2 separate regions of the Homo sapiens genome follow, and region 2 is linked to region 1. The links come from fine-mapping of genetic effects on gene expression. Tissue or cell type: whole blood. Region 1 holds a variant in brackets; the other region holds the start of a gene. All regions are shown on one strand. Distances are from middle to middle.

The links. PIP is the estimated chance that this variant, and not a neighbour inherited with it, causes the effect.
Region 2: MCUB starts here. The variant in region 1 is fine-mapped to the expression of MCUB in whole blood (INTERVAL, PIP above 0.99).

Annotation. Positions count from the first base shown.
Region 1 is chr4:109,680,202-109,682,701 of GRCh38, reverse strand. MCUB (mitochondrial calcium uniporter dominant negative subunit beta) reads right to left here. Exons shown (of 8, transcript NM_017918.5): 5 at 1-120. It also overlaps a transcript of CASP6 not described here. Among named protein-coding and RNA genes, the nearest start is that of CASP6, 22 kb to the left of the region's middle. The variant C/T (reference allele first, on the strand shown) is at 1,222.
Region 2 is chr4:109,559,115-109,561,746 of GRCh38, reverse strand. It overlaps MCUB (mitochondrial calcium uniporter dominant negative subunit beta), which reads right to left and starts at 1,501. Exons shown (of 8, transcript NM_017918.5): 1 at 1,311-1,501. The coding sequence starts at 1,409. RefSeq lists an enhancer at 615-814 and a silencer at 1,235-1,554.

The DNA.
Region 1 (2,500 bases):
TCTCCAGTAAATGGTGCTCTCTCTTTTTCTGAGACTCTTCTAAATGCAAGATTGTAAATAGTCTGTGAACCAAAGATTTCATGTGTTCCATCTCAGCAGTGTGCTCATTACTTGGTTTTTCTGAGAAAAGACACAAGGGAAACAAGCCAGTCACCACATTGTTCCCGCAGGGTGTGTAAATCTTTCGGTCCCCAATTCTCTTTCCAAATATTATCTTAGGATCCACAGGGTAAGGAAGCTGGTGTACAAACATGTAAACAAAGGTGTAATATACATTTGAAAAGCAGTTCAAGTGTACTTTTCAACAAAGAGAGTCACAGTAAACAACAAAGTGTGGATCTGAAGAGCAGTTCATATACAAGGTAAAAAAAAAAAAAGTCACCAAAAAAATGACTTTGGCATAAGGATTATTTTCAGCTGAAGGCAATTGAGCATAAGCAGCTACAAGAAAGGCTCTCTGGCCTCTCCCTTTTTGCCCAAAAGCAGGACACAAATTTTACAAAGACCTCGTGAGAGACAGAACTAGCTGGATTTCCTAGGCCAACTAAGAATCCCTAAGCCTAGCTGGGAAGGTGACCGCATCCACCTTTAAACACGGGGCTTGCAACTTGGCTCACACCCAACCAGAGAACTCACTAAAATGCTAATTAGGCAAAAACAGGAGGTAAAGAAATAGCCGATCATCTATTGCCTGAGAGCACAGCGGGAAGGACAAGGATCGGGATATAAAACCAGGCATTCGAGCCAGCAATGGCAACCCCCTTTGGGTCCCCTCCCTTCGTATGGGAGCTCTGTTTTCACTCTATTTCACACTATTAAATCTTGAAACTGCACTCTTCTGGTTCGTGTTTGTTACTGCTCGAGCTGAGCTTTCGCTCACTGTCCACCACTGCTGTTTTGCCGCCGTAGCAGACTCGCTGCTGACTTACATTCTTCCGGATCCAGCAGGGTGTCCACTGTGCTCCTGATCCAGCGAGGCACCCCTTTGCCGCTCCAGATCGGGCTAAAGGCTTGCCATTTGTTCCTGCACGGCTAAGTGCCTGGGTTTGTCCTAATTGAGCTGAACACTAGTCACTGGGTTCCATGGTTGTCTTCCGTGACCCACGACTTCTAATAGAGCTGTAACACTGCATGGCCCAAGATTCCGTTCCTTAGAATCCGTGAGGCCAAGAACCCCAGGTCAGAGAACACGAGGCTTGCCATCATCTTGGAAGTGGCCCA[C/T]GACCATCTTGGGAGTTCTGGGAGCAAGGACCCCCGGTAACACTCTCTACCAGAAAGAACAAAGGTAGATCGCCAGAGACAACTTTAGACCCTTTTCAGCTTGGAGACTGCACCAGAGGAATCTACAGACAAACTTTAGTAGCTTTTGACTACCTTTAACCAACTTATTTGCTTTTCCACAATTTGCTGACCCCAGAGACTCAAGGACCTTTTCCTTTGACTTGTCACAACTCTAAAAATGTATTATTCTTTGTAGAAGATGCTCTATCAGCTGAGGTTCAGAGCCACCTCTTTGAGAATTACTCATTCCTTGGATACCTCCCATGTGTCTATGGAATATACACATTAATAAACTACTGTTTGTTTTCTTCTTAGTAATCTCTCTTATCACAGGGGTCCATCCCAGCTAAGAACTAAGAGTAAAGGGAAAATTATTTTTCAACTCTTACAGGAGTTACGGTTTCAGAGTTTTTAATATAAAGTTCTCTTGATTATAGACTTCCCTCATCCCACCTCCTCCATGGGTTTATAAGTCCATATAAAATTAGGCTCTGCTATGAGAAGTCCCTCAGATTGATACCCTTCTGAGAGCTGTAATTGTTCATTATCACTGTTAAGAGAACCTGAGGGAGGACAAGGTGAGAGGAAGGGAAGATGGACCTTCCCACCAGGCAGCAGCAAACAACTGCAGACAAGAGAGACATATGTCTAGAGTTGGTATCAGCCCAGTAAGTTTTCCAGTTTGTGTCAGTAGTCCTGAAGTTATTTTTCTTCCATCACTACCCAATTCAAGACTGCTGTGGTCTTTACCCCCTTCCATAGTCTAGGCTATAGCTGCCACAGAGGGGTGAAAGCTAGGTGTTCTCTTTTAGGCTTTGAGATCTGTAGAAGAGTCAGAGTCCTTTTGTTAATGAAAAATGTATTGGTACATAAAACATATACATACAGAGAAAAGGCATAGATGGAAGATAGGCAAAGCTAGGCACTAAAACAGCAAGGGTAAATTTTATTAATAACTATTGCAATAGGGTCCAGCGTGAACTGAACTCAACTTCAATTTGTGCAGAGATGACTGTTTTAAAGAAAGAATGACAGAATGGGCAGGGTGAACAGCAGGGGCTTGAACAGAGTCAGGGAAATGAAAATTTACAAAAAGTGGATAGTTGGTTAATGTTACTGGGCCATCTGGGTTTGTTAACTGGTACCTATCCAGAAGAGAAATAAACTTCTCATACCTTATGACAGGATGCAAGTCAGAGCCAGGCACCCACGGGTTGGG
Region 2 (2,632 bases), 120 kb after region 1:
AATAATCTGTGTTTAAAATGGCATGTGAAAGGGGTTCCTCGTATTGGGTTGTTTTAATGTTTGGTATCTCTTTGACTACACAATGCAACACTTACAGTAAAAGTACAACCTTTAAAAGTATAAAAAGCCCATCTCCCCAATGACTTTATAAGTCTACCATTTTACATTTTAAGGAGTTTGCCCCTGTTCTTACATTTAGTAACAACATGGCCTTCCTCATTCTCTTTCAAACATTCCTGGAATTGATTTTCTGAATGCACTTAATCCTTTGGTCACAAGCTCAATGAAAAGGAAAAAAAAATGCACTTAAATATTCCCTGCATCAATTGAAACTGAAGCCCTCAGACAGCTGGAGGAAAAGGGGGGGAAGGAAAAAAAAGAACAAAATAAACAGGAAGTGAAAGTGACAAGAGAATCACACTGCTTACTTTTTGGCTTTTAAGCCTTTAACAATCTGAAAGTAATCTTAACAGTGTGGGGGAGGAACAAACGAAAACTCAGAAACAGCTCCCTCCCCAACCACACACACCCTGAAGGCTTTGGCTGTCTTTCCTCATCTGGGTCAGAGTTTGCACTCCCGGGCTCCTGTCAGGCTCCATCGCAATCCTCCTTAAACTCAGCGCTTTCCCCTTCTTCTAGTCTTTTTTGGTGCACATCCACTCTCTACTCCTCCAAGCCACGGTTCTCCACAGACCACAATACAACGGTGTCAGGCCAACTGTTACTCACCAGCACACTCATGATTCACCCGTCTCTCGGGTGTCTGAACAAAACGCGAGTTTTTCTTCCTTCTGGGAAAGGGAGGTGCTCGCAGATTTCAGGATGGAAATTTCACTCTCCTGCGACCGTCCACACCCGGGACGGTCACTGCCCCGTTCATCGTTTCCGGGCTCCTTAGGGGCTCGGGCACTGATCACCAAGAGGGAACCGGCCCCGCGGCGCAGCGGCTTTGGAAACTTGCTCCTGACCGAGAGCTGCAGCCCAGAAACTGCCTCCCAGGTTATTCTGCTGCTCCCAGGCCGAAGTCTGGTGGTCCCCGCACCCTATCTCGGCCCGGGTGAGGCACCCCCAGCCGCAGCGCTCTGGCTTCACCTTCCCCGGGCCCGGAGTCTTGACCTCAGCCCAGGCCTCCGTGACCCACGTCGGCCGCCCGGCCACCACCTGTCGGGACCGCCCGGCGCGCGGAGCCCGGCAGCCAGCAAAACGCAGTTGACTGCTCGGCCGCTCGGCTTTTGCTCCCGCCAAAGTTGTCCAACGCAAACTTTGCACCAGCCTACCCCGAACCCCCACAGCCCGGCACCCGCTCTTACCTGGGGCGGAGGCGGCAGCGGCCACGGGCGCGCTGGGCGCCAGGTGCCAGGGGTCGGCAGCAGCCGCGTGCGCCACGGCCAGAGGCCCCTCTGGAGCATCCTCCCGCCCCAGGCGCGCGGCTCCCGCAGGCGTCAGCGGCGCATCCTCCCTCAGCCGGGCTCCTCGTCAGCGCCTGGTGGCTCCGAGCTGTGGGCGCTCCCGCCCCGCCTGCTCGCTCAGCGCGCCGCGGCTCCAGCTTGGGCGGGCTCACGGGAGGGTGTGTCCCTGTTTCCACTTGTCGGCTCTCTACGCATCCGGGCGCAGGGCTGTTTTCTTTCCTCCGACCAAAAAAAAAAAAAAAAAAGAGAGCGAGAGAGCGGGAGCCCGAGAGCGGGAGCCCGAGGTCGAGGGCCCCCTCCTTCTCCAGCAGAAGACCCTCTGGAATGAACAGCAGCAGGCGACGCACACCTTGCGAGCTCTAGATTTCAAAACTCGCTGTTAATTCCCGGTGCTGCGTGCTCTGAGCGCCGTCTTCGCCATCCAACCCAGACGGGGATGAGACGAAAACAGCGTCCGGCATCTGGAGGGGGCAGGGCCGCTCAGGAAGTTTGTTTTCCCCACCGAGCTTGGAGAAGACGGATTGAAGCGGGTCGGCCGAGGCCTCTCCCACCTCCACAACCTCCAAGGCCTCTGCCCCGGGCTGCGGTGCCGGGCCCCTGCTCGCTGGCGAGTGCGGTGTGAGGCGGGCAGCCCGGGCCTACCCCTGCGGAGGTTTGTAGTTCACGGTATAGGGGCCCAAACCCGAGTTTTTTGGGAAAGTATCTCCCACAGAATTGGCTTCTCTTTTGAAGCACGTTTTTAATTGAAGAAGCTTCGGAACCGGTATTGAGTTCTTCTAACTACTGGGAAATCGGATGCTTTGTTTTGAGACTACTTATTTTTGAAAGCAAACCAAAGGCATTAAAGAGCAACCTAAACCAATTACAGTAGGGTTGTTAGATAAAATATAGGATGCCCAGTTAAACTTGAATTTTAGATACAAATAGTGAAGTATGTCCCAAATATTGCATGGGTCACATTTATTATTTTAAAAATGAAATATCTGGGATATACTAAATTATTTGGTGTTTATCTGAATTCAAATTTAACTGGGCACTCCGCATTTTTATCTCCTGAATCTGCAAGAGGGTTCAGTTAATGAATCAAAATTGGCAAACCTGCAATAAGTGGCAAATCACTCCTGGCGGTAATCTCCTTTCCTTATTGAAAAGGGAAAGAATCACAAGTTTCTACTATAGTAAAAACTTTATCACTATTAAAGGCTGATTCACCTGTGTTAACT